Linked DNA regions of Homo sapiens. The protein of the gene in region 1 purifies or fractionates together with the protein of each later gene. This does not show direct contact. Each region holds a gene or a part of one and is shown on either strand. Other genes may lie near its edges.

What was found. The genes of interacting proteins can lie anywhere in the genome.
Region 2: the proteins of PTPRR (region 1) and CBS purify together in Homo sapiens (affinity purification with mass spectrometry, with the first as the bait; one large-scale study listed by BioGRID). This does not show direct contact.
Region 3: the proteins of PTPRR (region 1) and MRPS33 purify together in Homo sapiens (affinity purification with mass spectrometry; one large-scale study listed by BioGRID and IntAct). This does not show direct contact.
Region 4: the proteins of PTPRR (region 1) and KCTD5 purify together in Homo sapiens (affinity purification with mass spectrometry; one large-scale study listed by BioGRID and IntAct). This does not show direct contact.

The regions. Positions count from the first base shown.
Region 1 is NC_000012.12:70,658,739-70,662,238, forward strand, and holds part of PTPRR (receptor-type tyrosine-protein phosphatase R isoform 1 precursor), read right to left. Parts: intron 2,470-3,500; coding exon of another isoform or gene 2,464-2,469; exon of another isoform or gene 2,360-2,463; coding exon 2,202-2,359; intron 1-2,201. UniProt on the Homo sapiens protein: Sequesters mitogen-activated protein kinases (MAPKs) such as MAPK1, MAPK3 and MAPK14 in the cytoplasm in an inactive form.
Region 2 is NC_000021.9:43,062,336-43,065,835, forward strand, and holds part of CBS (cystathionine beta-synthase), read right to left. Parts: intron 3,361-3,500; coding exon 3,281-3,360; intron 3,187-3,280; coding exon 3,052-3,186; intron 2,938-3,051; coding exon 2,868-2,937; intron 1,657-2,867; coding exon 1,565-1,656; intron 744-1,564; coding exon 618-743; intron 61-617; coding exon 1-60. UniProt on the Homo sapiens protein: Hydro-lyase catalyzing the first step of the transsulfuration pathway, where the hydroxyl group of L-serine is displaced by L-homocysteine in a beta-replacement reaction to form L-cystathionine, the precursor of L-cysteine.
Region 3 is NC_000007.14:141,004,953-141,008,452, reverse strand, and holds part of MRPS33 (small ribosomal subunit protein mS33), read left to right. Parts: intron 1-1,917; coding exon 1,918-2,023; 3' UTR 2,024-3,500.
Region 4 is NC_000016.10:2,689,023-2,692,522, forward strand, and holds part of KCTD5 (BTB/POZ domain-containing protein KCTD5), read left to right. Parts: intron 1-3,500. UniProt on the Homo sapiens protein: Its interaction with CUL3 suggests that it may act as a substrate adapter in some E3 ligase complex. Does not affect the function of Kv channel Kv2.1/KCNB1, Kv1.2/KCNA2, Kv4.2/KCND2 and Kv3.4/KCNC4.

The sequences.
Region 1 (3,500 bases):
TAAGAATTTGATGAAGACTATAAGCTTCCACTCTTCAGAAAAATTCACATAAGTTTACATACTCAAATGTGTCCAAATAATTTCAAGGAGTTCACTGACCTCTGCGGTTTATGGATAGGTTCAACGTTAGGGACTTTTGCTCTAGTTTTTTTTTTTTTTTTTTTTTTTTTTTTTTTTATAAGACAGAGTCTTTCTCTGTCGCACAGGCTGCTGAAATACAGTGGCGGGATCTTGACTCACTGCAACCTCTGCCTCCTCGGTTCAAGCGATTCTCCTGCCTCCGCCTCCCAAGTAGCTAGGAGTACAGGCACATTCCACCACGCCTGGCTAATTTTTGTATTTTTAGTAGAGAGGGCGTTTCATCATATTGGCCAGGCTGGACTTGAACTCCTGACCTCAAGTGATCTGCCTGCCTCGGCCTCCCAAAGTGCTAGGATTGCAGGTGTGAGCTACCGCACCTGGCCCATTGACAAGCTTTGAGCAGAGACTCCATGTAAGGTGAGACGGAGAAAGGGCACAGGTAGGCCATGGTGGCGGTGAGAGCATGGGGGAATGCGGTATGTGTGTGCATTTTACCAGCTACTTCTAAAATACATGGATGAGGTCAGAAGGGCCTGAACTATGGTGGCTGGACAGGAAATGGTGATTATGGGAGAAGCTTTGAAGGGAAAGCCAATCTAGTGACTGATTAGATACTGATGTTGGAGTTAAAAGGAGGACCAGAGATAACTGTCAACATGGGATCCTGAGTGACTGGAAAAAAGATAGTCTCATTCTCAGAAATAGTAATCAGAAGGGGAGCTGGTTTTATAGGGGAAGTGACTAGTTCATTTTAGATATCCTGAGTGTTTAATGACTTTGGGTGGGGGACAGTTCCAGCCCTAACGCATAGTCAGTTAGGCTGTTTTTTTGTTTTTGTTTTTTTGGCTCCAAGTTAAGTTTAGGATAAAGCCAGTATTATCTACCTTTGGATAAATAGACACATAGTAAACTTTACTCTTAATTAAACCACACAATCTCAAAAAAGGAGGCTAAAATTATACTCTAAAATAATATATTTATTAAATATATCATCAAAAGCTGACTTAAGAGACCTATGCGGTTAAACAAAGCAACCCAAATTATTTTGAGAAAGCATGAAGAATAAATGGCTGGCTGGGCATGGTAGCTCACACTTGTAATCCCAGCACTTTGGGAGGCCAAGACAGGTGGATCACGTTTGAAGTCAGGAGTTTGAGACCAGCCTGGCCAACATGGTGAAACCCCCGCCTCTACTAAAAATATAAAAATTAGCCAGGCGTGGTGGTGCATGCCTGTAATTCCAGCTACTTTGGAGGCTGAGGCAGGGGAATCACTTGAGCCAAGGAGGCGGAGGTTGCAGTGAGCCGAGATAGCGCCACTGCACTCCAGCCTGGGTGATAGAGTGAGACTCTGTCTCATAATAAATAAATAAATAAATAAATAAATAAATAAATAGTTGTTCATATAAATTACTTTAAAAATGCTGCCTTCAGTTTGGTTACATTAAAAGGAAAATTAGGGGAAGGAGGTATCAGTTTTAGGAAGAGAGCTTTGAACTAGAAATTAGGGACAGGAACCAGCACAGACCCTGCTGCTGTTGTTGGCTTGGCCTCTAGTGCTCCATGTTCTGGTAACAGCACTTTGTTTTCCTTTGGTGACTTGCTCACTTCTCATTTCATAAATTTGTTTCAACCTGTTTTTCTGGAGATAACTCTTAAAATAATTGACTGGTTTTCACCAAACTTGAAATAGTAATGTTACCAAGATACAAGCCAAGCAGAGTTCACATGTCATGTTGAAACAACAAAAAAGCCACTGATAATTTCAAAAAGTGCATCTTTATTCCTGGTGTGTACAAGACTGATGAGACTAAATCAATCAATATAAGTTTCAAAGCAGATAACTGCTGAATAGGTCTCCTGTTCACTGAGCCATTTATTACGAACTTGTATTTCGCCGACTGTGTAATTGTTGTTTGTGAAAAATGACCTAAAAGCATGACTTCACTTCTGTCAGCATAATCTTGATTCAGACTCAAATATTACAGACTTAACCAATTTCAATAAATATTTAATTTGCCAACAAAGTCACATCCAGGAAGCAAAACCCACTTGCACCTGCTCTGTGACTTTACAAAGAATGGGCCATTGCTTAGACAGAAAGGACCATACACGTCTTACCTGCAGTGGACAACCACAGGCCCTCGGCCCTGGGAAGCAAGTCTGTCTTCTTCTACATCCAGCATGAGCTGTAGGAGGGGCTGGGCACTGTCTGGAGTCTTGTGATCAGGCCATGAGGTGTACCAGTAATGCTTCACATGTTGGGTGTGGCTTCCTTGCTGAAAATAGCAACAGCCACCAAATGCCTCATTCACTTGTAGAACTAAAAGTCATCCAAACCACAATACTGAATGCCTTTTATCACCCCCATCTTGCTGGCAATTTATTTCTAGGTGGGAAAAAAATTTAGAAGATTTTTGAAGAGTGCCCTTTTACTTTGAGAAGACTTTACTGTCAGTAACCTGTTTGCAAAGTGAGAAAGTCATACCTTTGTTGAGATTTACATCTCTACCTATAGTTATAATATAGATCATATAAGTAACATATGCTAAATATATATTTATAATTTATTATAATAAACAAGATGGTAGGTGAAAATGTAGCCAAGAAAGAATGAGATATATTTTGTTTCCTGCTCTATGAGCATTCCTGACAAGTTATTATAAACATGTTAATCAATAGAACACTTAATTTCATATCAGTCATGCTAATACTTCTACACTCATCCAAAACTCCAGTATTTAATAGGAGTGAGGAATCACAGCAATAAAGAAGCTACATGAGATCCCTCTATTGGAAACACTTGGGTGAGGGCCCACACACCTCATCTCCAAACCCAGCACGGGTGAGGGTGTGGCATGAACCTCGCACTCCAGAACATGTGTTGAAAAATAAGTTTTGGTAAATGCCTTCCTATTCCAAACTTCCCCGGCACTCCAGAACATGTGTTGAAAAACAGGTTTTGGTAAACGCCTTCCTATTCCAAACTTCCCAACAAAAGCCATCACTGTAGCTCTGCCCCTGTTTTCTTCCTCTTTGTGATGATTCTATCCCAGCAGTGAGGCTGCAGATAAGATCGAAATTTTTGGGTGATTATTCTCCAGAAGCAAAAATAATACCATGGTAACATTTCTCAGCATCTGCTGCCCATGAGTTAAATAAGATAGTTTTCCTATGACATAATCTCGTCTGGGGAAAGTCCCTATAAATTACTGTAACTCCACGCTTCTGAAGATCTCATCAACACTTCAGGCTTGCCTTGCTTCCCACTGCCACCCACAAATGCAGATTTTCTCTTTCACAGCTTCCAGGCCTTACGCAAAGCTGCTTAGATCAAAATGACATTAAAAAAAATCATGGTAAAGTCTCCAGCACAGCCTTTAGTTAAAAGCTTTCAAAAGGTTAAATCAGAGATATTTT
Region 2 (3,500 bases), on another chromosome or scaffold:
CAGCATGCGGGCAAAGGTGAACGCCTCCTCATCGTTGCTCTTGAACCACTTGTCCACCACCTGAGCAGGACCCCACCACAGCCCGTCAGCGTGGGAGCCGCTCCCACGTGACCAAGAGGGTGAACAGCCTCATGGTGGACCCCGTGTCTAGGCGGTAGGACCCCAGAGGTCTCACCCCAGCCTCTCCCCCTGGGATCGGCACGTCTGCAGACTTTCCAGTTCCAACACGTTTTGCAGACAGCAAAACTGCCCGCCAGCCCCACTGAGCATCCGTGTGACCCACACCGGCCCTTCGGTCTCTGCTCTCCCTCAGGCCAAAGTCAGCTTTTTGGCTCTTAACAGACTTTTCCGGGGCCTTAATTTTCACACGTTTTCCCTGCTCCCTGCCTGTGCCACCTGGGCTACATCCCTTGGTGAGGTCAGGCCACGTGTGCGGACATCGTCCCCCAGTCTACTTTGTCTCGACCTTCGAGACCAGCTTCTCACCATGCGTGCGGGGCTTGCCCTTCTGTTTCAGTGGAGAAGCTGGTTGGGGCCCAGGGTCAGCCAGGCTCCCCAGTGTGAGGGTGAGTTACAGGCTGCACCGGCACTGTGGCCGGGCTCTGGACTCGACCTACCGTCCTGTCCAGCACCGTGGGGATGAAGTCGTAGCCGATCCCTTCCACCTCGTAGGTTGTCTGCTCCGTCTGGTTCAGCTCCTCCGGCTCTGCGAGGATGGACCCTTCGGGATCCACCCCAATGATCTGCAGAGGGCGCGGCTTCAGGGCTCAAGGCCAGCAAAAGCCCCGCCTGGACATGCCTCGATATTCTATTATGGGAGTGGCCAATACCGCCGTTAACAACTGCCTGTTAATGATCTGCCTGTGGGTGGTGGCCTGTTCCCAGCCTCAGAGGCAGGATGAGAAACCCAAGAACCCAGGCTCCAAGTATTAAAGCGGTAATGACCTAAATGTTCAGTGCAGGGCGCTCAGAAGTAAAGGCAGGTGCCTGGGAGGAACTGACCTCCCCGGGGTGCTTCTCGGAGCGGGGCCCCCAGGACAGTCCAGACAGACCACCCTGCGGCGGAGCAGCAGAGCCTTTGGGGACAAAGGGCATTGCTGGGCAGTGACGTCTTTTTCAAGGGCAAGCAACAGGGAGAGAACGCCCTTGTCTCATCAGCGGGACCTTTCTAGGCACCCGTCCTCAGACCTGCTCTTAACCCCGAGTCCAGGAACCCTCTCCCAACTCCCACAAGCCCCAGTTGAGGGGCAGACTCAGGACCAGAGGACTTAGAGCTCCTGGCTGATCCTCAGAGGCCCCCAGTTGGAACTCCGACCCCCCACTCAGCGCAGGAAGGTTCTCCAAGACACTGGCCGGTGAGCGAGCACCCAGCCCCAGCTCCTTCGGGTCACGAGCTGCTGGTCCCTTATGTGTCAAGCACCCTTGTCTTCCCAAACACCTCCCAGGCAGCGCAGAAATACCGCGGGAGACAGCGTGCTGAGCAGACCGTGAGGAATGACAGCTTTCAGCTCAGAAGCCGGGGCCACTCCGCACTGCCCCTCTCCGGCCCGGCCACACCACTCACCCTGCATCCAGGACACTTCTCCTTCAGCTTCCTGGCAATGCCCGTGATGGTGCCGCCCGTGCCCACTGAAGCCACCAGCATGTCCAGCTTCCCTGGTGGACGGATAACATTCTTGGGTCCCTGCCTGGCCAGCCCATCACTCATAGTAATAATCATTGAAAACACACTCAGCCCAAACCACGGTGGGTAACCAAAAAGTTCAAAAGAAAAACTTCTTCTCCAGTTGGAGCAGCCCTCGTTGCTGCCCTTGGTCTGTGAAAGCCTCAGAAACAGGCAGCCTGGGGCACCCCAGCCCAGTCTTTGCTCAGTGACACTCGACCCCTAAAACCCCCATTTGGCTGGATGCAGAAAGACAGGACCCTGTCCGGGGGGTGCAGGCGCTGAGGGCGGGCAGAGGGAGGCTGTGAATTAACCACCTCCGTGGGCTGTTGGATGTTTGCGTGGTGTGAGTGAGTTAACTGAATTTACACAGGAAATGGAATCAGTCTTTTAGGCTTCAGCGCAGAAACTCGCTGGGCGCTCACACTGCTGGCCGCCAGCGCGGGCATCTGGTGGAGAAGTCACAGCAGGGAAAGACTCAGCGAGACGGAGCAGCTTGGGCACCCATGCTGAGACAGGACTGTTTTTGCCAAATGAGAGAGTTCTCACACATAAAGCCCAAACAACCAAATGCCTGGACCTTACAGCCCGGCTCCTGGGCACGGACTGAGGGTGTACTCCAGCCCATGCCAACACCGGATTCCCAATAGGAAGCCAGGGCGCCAACCTCTTGGCAACTTATCTCTAAAGGGATCTCTTGGGAAAACCTCAGTACCAACCCCCACAGGCCTTGGCACCGAGTCCCTGGAAAAGGGCCCAAGGAGCCGGCCTCATGCTTGTAACAGAGAGTGAGCTCATCGCAGATGTCACCAGCTCTGTTCTGCAGATGAATTTGATGCCGAGTCAGGGCATGATCCCAAATGAAGTCCAAGCTGTGAGCCCAGCACCAGCCTGGGCCCTGAACAGACTCGCTGTCTGCATTATCTGCAGGAGGAGCCCCTGCAGACCTGCAGAGATTGCTGGGTAAACAAATACAGCCATGCCCTGTGTTTGCTATTACAGGTAAACCACAGGCGGAGGCCAAGAGGGCACAACGGAGGGAGGAAATTGTTCTAGAGAAATGCTCTAGAAAAGCATTTCACAGAGGGAACATTTGAGCTGGGTTCTGAAGGGTGAATAGGAGTTCACCAAGGAGAGGGCAAGAGATGTGTACACTCCCAGGCAGCCAGGGATAAATGCAATCAAGATGGACAGAGGGACGCACCATCACACTGCTGCAGGATCTCATCAGCGGTGGTGTCGTAGTGAGCCAGGGGGTTGCTGGCGTTGCGGTACTGCATAGAAAGAGAGCAGAGCCCGTGAGCTGACCCCTGACACCTCAGTCACCCCCACATCCCTGACCGAGACCCTCCTAGGGAATGCCTGTCTCCAGGCCCCAGGTGCCTCACCTGGTCTAGGATGTGAGAATTGGGGATTTCGTTCTTCAGCCGCCAGGCCACCCCCACGTGTGACTCCGGGGAGTCGAACCTGGCATTGGTGGGCGTCCTCACAATCTCAGCCCCCAGTGCCCGCAGCACGTCCACCTGCAGGAGGGAAAGCGGTGGCCTGCACCTTCCGCCTGGCCCAGGCACCCTCATCCCCTGCCCTATGACCCCGCCCCTGGCCACGCCCACCCACCTTCTCGGAGCTCATCTTCTCTGGCATCACGATGATGCAGCGATAGCCCCTCACTGCCGCAGCCAGGGCCAGCCCGATCCCTGAGGGCACACAGAGGGTGAGAGGGGCCCAGTGACCCCCCAAGCCCTGCCCCGCCCCTGCCTGGGACACAGGGGCACACCCCGATGCCGGTTCCCTTAGGGCCCAGGGAAGAGGGTTCTGTGGGATTCCAAAATTGCCC
Region 3 (3,500 bases), on another chromosome or scaffold:
GTTTTGAATGTTTGGAATTGCTTTGGGACTACCTCTCTTGCCATTAGTCTGGGCTCAGAAAATAAAAACTAATTTTATTATAACCCAAAATAAAATATTGGGAGGCAGATATCCTGAGGAGAAGATTATAACCCATGAAAAAATCACATTCAGTTATTTTAATTGATCTTTTTGCTGCTGCTGTCTGTTTGTTTGAAAAATAAAGACTTAACTATCTTTGGGGACAGGGAAAAATAGTTATCCATAGAAAAACAAGATTATTTTCACGTAGTCACTAGGTATGGTAAATGATACCTCTAATGCTAGGCCTCCTGTGGCATCAGGCAGGATGAAACTAGACAGTCTCCAATAAAGAAAATATTATTCAGAGATCTGCAAAAGAGGGAGGGAAGCACCAGTTCTCAGAAACAATTGATTCATTCAGTTAACCAGGTACCTAGCTTGTATCATCAACAGAGACAGAGTCGCCAGAAAGCTTTCTTTCTGTCCAACGGTTGATGAGAATGAAGGAGGGACAGAAGAGGGGGAAAAAAAATAAGTAAATTATAGGATCTGTTACAAAGTTGAACATGCTGTGGAAAAAAATAGTAGAGCCGGCTGAGCAGGATCCAGAGTGCTGACGGGGCCTGCAGTAGGTGGGGAGAGGCTAGATTACAGGATGAAACAGGACAGTCAGGGTCAGCCTCGTTGAGGAGTTGAGGTTTAAGCAGAGGCTTGAAGGTGGTGAGTGAGCCAAGTAGGACTTGGGGAAGAGTTTGCAAGGCAGAGGGGCAAGAGCACAGCAAAGGCCTTGAGGTGGGAGTGTTCCTTTCCAGGAGGCGTGCAGGTACCGGGAGGGTGTGGGACTGGAGACGGATTGCAAGGGGCTGTGAAGCCATAGTAAGGACAATGGCATTTGCTCTGGTTGAAATGGGGAACTATTTGCAGGGCTATGAACAGGAGTAGCATGATCTGACATATATTTTAGAAGAATTATACCAGCTGCACTGTTGAGAATTATTTGGGGACACTCACCACTAATCCCAAAGAGTTGTATACTGTCCATGATGTTCATGGATAGCCTAGAGAGTTAAAACTTAAGCTCAGCACACCCCTCTCTTACATTTGATTCATACACTGTTATTATCCATACTTTACAGGTTAGGAAACTAAGGTGCAGGGAGGTAAGGCCACTTATCCAAGGTGACAGATCTAGTAAATGGTGGAGCCGTGATTTGAACCCAGGTTCACATGGAATCCAGAGCTTACATGTTTAAACACCATACCAATCTTTAGGTATCTGGGCTTAAGATGTGGACTTTTTTTTATAATATAAGCAATCATCAACTTCTGTGCCATCCACATACTTACGTAGTCCTGGCTGCTTTGATTCCTTTAGTATCTGTCTTTTGATTTGGCTTCCTTCTGCCTGAGCCTTTCCCCAGCAGCCTTTTTGTGTGAGTTACCTGCTGCCACTAAGGTTTCACCATGTTGGCCAGGCTGAGCTTCCTCCAGACCTCACCCCATTCTGAGTAGATGCTAGTTCCTAGGGCAGTCAGGGTCTCTGTGTAGCTATTGAAGCAGATTCCCACTTTGTCTCCTCTCTGTTTAGTCTTAGTGTTGCAGGGAAATTTGGGGTAATCATTAGTATTGTGTCATTGTTATGTAGGTTTATGTAGGCTGGCCTGGGAATTTCCCTGCAGCTTGTGGCAGTGTTTCTGTGAGGGGAAACGGACTTACAAGTGAACTTTTGGAATACACCGCATCTCTGTGTTAGGGACTCCCTATACTTTTTGTTCACCAAGCTGAGCATGTGGCTAACTTGTAAAAGTCAAAGATCGATAACCAGAATGACCTAAGAGAGCAGTGCGTGCTAGATTAGTGTACTTTTCTACTCGTAAAAATAACTGGTTAATTATTTTTTCCTTCTTCATTCAGAGATGAGCATCAGGATTTTATGGATGAGCAAAAACGACTAAAGAAGCTTCGTGGAAAGGAGAAACCAAAGAAAGGAGAAGGGAAAAGAGCAGCAAAAAGGAAATAGTGTTGGTCCCTCAAGAGGGAGACTTTCTTCCTCAGTGGCGGAGAGAAGAAAGTGCATTTATTGTCTTTCCACCTATTGGAGGAATGTCATCTTCCTAAATGAAGTTTATTTGGAGGAACACAGTCATCTCCTTGGTGAAATCTAATCCGGTTACATTGTGGCTGGTTTCTTGAACACATTCTAACTGTGCAAAATTATCTTGGCCTTGGCCGTGTAATGTGAGGTTTACCTGATTCTCTAATGAAATAAATACCTAAGTTATTGTTTGATGATTTGTTTGGGGTGGGATGGGATGCTGGGGGAATGGAGGGGAAACCTCATTAAGTGAGCATCCTATAGTGTCCTCATTTCTCCCTTCTTGCTTACTGACTCACCCAGCCCTAAACTTCTTTCATCTTGGGCCTTTCAGCCACTGTCTCCACCACCAAGCTCACAAACTTTGTGTGTGTCTTCACCTACTCCTTTGAGAAATCTATTAAGATGAATTTGTAGAGTAAGTATCTTTTAAAAGGAAGTATTGAATACCTGCTCTGTACAAGATATTGGGGCCCTGGTAATACACGTGGTTAGCAAGAGAAATACTCCCTACCTCATGTAAGTTTCAGTCTTGTGGGAGGGACTAATATTACATAATTACATACAATTGTATTACATGCTACAAAGGAAAAAGCCAGACTTCTATAAGAGCATGGATGGATGGATGAATGCAGAGAGAGATAGCCAGAAGCCCAAATCACATTAGGGAGTTTAAAGAAAGCTTCCCTAAAGAAATGATATTTAAGCCAGGCGCTGTTGCTCACACCTGTAATCCCACCACTTTGGGAGGCCGAGGTGGGTGGATCACAAGGTCAAGAGATCGAGACCATTTTGGCCAACATGGTGAAACCCCACCTACTAAAAATGCAAAAATTAGCTGGGCGTCGTGGCATGCACCTGTAGTCTCAGCTACTCGGGATGCTGAGGCAGGAGAATCGCTTGAACCCGGGAGGCAAAGGTTGCAGTGAGTTGAGATCACGCCACTGCACTCCAGCCTGGCAACAGAGCAAGACTACATCTCAAAAAAAAAATGATATTTAAGCTGAACCTTGAAGAATAAATAAGAGGTTGCCAAAAGGAAAATGGTGAGAAAGGGGTTTGAGGCAGAGAGTACTATTTGCAAAGCCCTAAGGTATGAAGAAATTGTCTGTTCAAGAAACACTGAGTTTGTTCATGGTTGGCTGTAAGAAAACAGAGGCCAGATCATGAAGGGCTTTGGAAATTCTGTGGAAAAGCTTGAACATAACTAGAAGTTCTATGAGGGATGACTGTTGTATAGATTTGAGTAGCTCGCTGCTGGTTTTATTGTATTCCAGCAATGAGTTTCCAAAGAAATTGTGAAGGCTTGGCCGGGCACAGTGGCTCACGCCTGTAATCCCAGCACTTTGGGAGGTCGAGGCGGGTGGATCACGAGGTCAGGGGATCGAGACCATCCTGGCTA
Region 4 (3,500 bases), on another chromosome or scaffold:
ACTAAGCTTTGAGTCATGTGTGGGGCAGGGACCTCCCAAATTCCAGTTTCTATGCTGGGTGAGGCCGAGAAGCAATGGAAGGGAAGGGTGGTGGGGAGGCAGCAGGCCTGGCGACCAGGGCACAGGGGCCCCACCCTGCTCTCCGAATCTGGCTGCCTTGGACAAGCCTCCTTGGTCTCTGGCCTCAGTTTCCCCATTAGTAATTGGTGACATCAAAGTCCTCTTGTGGGCCAAAGATATGCCACAGCTGCATAAAACAAAACAGAAGAGAGAGTAGAGGTGAAGGTTTTGTGTGCGAAATTGAAACAGAGTCACTTGAAATGGATAATTTCAGAGTAAAAACTAAGTATTTCTAATTAGGTTGATTGCAGATGTTGGTGCACAGGAAATTCTATGCCTTCGCGTCTAGATTTCTGTGGGGCAATTTGACAGAGTTTATCTCCTGGATTGGCTCAGGGCACTGCACCCTCTTGATTTCGTTCCCCTCTGGTGGCACGTGTCTCCGAGCACCGGGAATGACTGAGAGCCGCAGGGCCGACCCTCTTTGCAGAGCTCTGGGAGCTGCGGGAGGGTTGGGCAGCAGCAGGGTTATGTTGGGTTCAGAATCTGGCGTGAGAGCCTGGCAGTCTCCACCCTCATTCCTCACTGCCGTTTTCTTTTCTTTTTTTTTTTTTGAGACAGAGGCTCACTGGATCGCCCAGGCTGGAGTGTAATGCACAATTTTGGCTCACTGCAACGGGGCTGTCAGGTTCAAGTGATTGTCCTGCCTCAGCCTCCCTAGTAGCTGGGATTAGAGGCACCCTCCACCATGCCTGGCTAATTTGTGTATTTTTAGTAGAGACAGGGTTTCACCATGTTGGTCAGGCTGGTGTTGAACTCCTCACCTCAGGTAATCCGCCTGCCTTGGCCTCCCAAAGTGCTGGGATCACAGGCGTAAGCCACTGTGCCCAGCCCTTCACTGCCATTTTCAAGGCTGCTGGTTGCATTAGGGACCTGTCCCTGAGAGGCTGGGGAACCCCCACGTTGCCCCCGGTGCTTTGCTGGGTGACAGCATGGATGGCGGAGAGCTGCAGCCGGAGTCTGGTGAGATGAGCAGAGCGGCCAGTCTTGTTACCACACTTCTCTGAGTGTTGCTCTCCTGACCAGACGTCCATCTGCGGCTGCCCTGTGGACCTGGGGAGTGGGCGAGCAGTCAGCTCTGTCTGCGGAGTCTTCCTCCGTCTGCCAGGGCTGTGTGTGCCCTGGCTCGGCGCTGTCTGCCATGTGCTCCCGTGGCCAGGGTCGCCCTCTCCTCTGTGGTTTGGCAACTGTCCTGCCCGGCCTACGTCCTGTGGCTCCGGCTGAAGCCTGGGACCTCTGGAGATGGGTGGCTCAGCCCAGCCTGCTGGGCCCACTCAATGCCAGCTTGGGCCCGGCCACAAGTAGGTCAGATGCCAATTCAGTGAGACGCGGGGAAGATGAGGGAAATGACTTGTCAATAAAACAGTCTTAATTATGGCTGTTTTAGAAAAAAACCACCACGAACCTTCCTGAGATCAAGCGCAGCCTGTGCTGGTTGTGTAAGCCGTGGAACGTATGAGAAAGCCAGGAAGAAGAGCACCCCCACGCCCAGCCCGCAGCATCTCACTGGCTTCCTGGCCGCCTCTCCTCATCCCAGTCGTAGAGGCGTGAGCGGGCCGGGGCATCTTTCCTTCCTCGTGTCATGGGGGCTTGGGCAGGCGCCGCTGATGGCCTTACGGGCAGCACAGGGGCCCTGCCTAGGTTGGCCCAGACGCTGTTCTAAACCTCCCCGAGGTGACCTTGCTGCCTTTGTCTCCATGAGCCTCGGAGTATATCCTGAATTTTGTATGATTTTGTGTTTCCCATTTTCCCATGTTCCATATTTTTTTGTTGTTTCTGCATCAGGGTGGAGGCTGATCCACATCCCCAACACCAGCAGTGAGCTGCCGAGGCCCTCGCGCCTGGGCTGGGCACTGTCTGGGCCTGGGCTGGCACCACGAGTAGCCCCCGCACACATTAGGCCGATCTGGAACATGTGGGCTCACCCGAGCTGGGAGCACCAAGACCCTGCCTACATGCTTGGAAGCGAGTCAGGCCACAGCGAGACCCGAACCCTGGTGGGATTTGGGGGTCCTGGTTTAAGACCCTGGCACTTCCTATGGATGTGGAAATCTCTCATTGAAAGCTTCAAAGAGAGCAGTGGTGAGAGCAGCACCTCCACACGCCACTGCCTCCCCGCCCTGGTGCGGATGTCCCTGACCTTCCGCTCTGCCCAGACAGGGCCTGTTTCTCGAGGAAACCCACCAGTTAGAAGGAACCCATGGGAAGAAACGGCCGGAGAGCTGTGAGGCCAGCCACAGAAGAGCCAGTTTTGGAATTTCCCACCAAGGGTTCAGCCTACTGCTCGCCCTTCAGCCTCTGGTGCCCGGCGGCTCAGCTGGGTTCTAGGGCCACGCAGGGCTCTGCAGTGTCACTCCGGGAGAGGGCTGTGGGGGCAGCTGCAGGCCCGGCGCGCCGAGTCCACGCAGCCTGGGTAGGTCCTGCATGGGCCCAGAGGTCGTGGGGCTCAGAGAATTGAACCACGTGGGAGGAGTGTACTGTGGCGGGGGCCCCATAGGAAGCCCACTGTCCTGGAGGCACTGGGGCGGCGGGGGTGTGGAGCGGCTGGCAGGTTCTTGGTAGACGCAGCTGGGGTTCTCTGCTCCTCTGCCCTGCAGCCTTGGCTCCCAGCGAGGTTGGCAACAAGCATCTGGACTCCTGGAAGTCTTCCAGAGGCTGCTCCTTTCAAGTCTCTTCCTAACTGGATGCACGTGGGGTCCCCCGCGGTGCCTCAGCCTCCCCTGCCTTTGATGGCTGGGTATTTTGCACCCAGGCTGCTGGCCCCTGAGCACAGGGATGGGCTGGAGCCACAGGCTGCAGGGAAAGCGCATCAGGAAGGTTCCTGGGGCGTGCGGTTCCCACACAGGTGCGTCCGGGGGCTTCCTGGTCCCTCTGTCAGGAGCCTGAGCTCCAGGGACTGAGACGAGCTGGGCAGAGCCTAGCCACTGTGGCCAGAGCTCTCACTGCCAGCAGGATCTCTCTTCAGGCACCCTGGAAAGGTGCCATGGCTCCGGCTGGTAAACTTGGCCTTGCAAAGCTCCACGTCCCTGTGTCTGGATGTGCCCAGCCCTGCTGATACGGTGTCTTTAGGGTGTCGCTTTTCTGGCCAGAAACGTCTCTGGCCGGCAGCACCTTTGTCCAAGTTCCTGTTCTGCGTCCAGGAAGAATGAGGTAGCAGACAAGTGGAGGGTGAGCATGACGAAGAGAAGCTTTACCAAGTGTTGGGACAGTGCAGAGGAGACTGTGGGGGCAGCTCCTCTCTGTAGGCAGGTCGGCTCATTCAGTTGGCAGCTCTCAGCAGAGAAGCGGCCCCGGACTGGCTGGCTCCTCTCCATTGACTTCCCAGCTCTCAGCAGAGAGGGTAGCTTCCCTCTGCAGCTGGTCTTCCACTTGCCAATTGT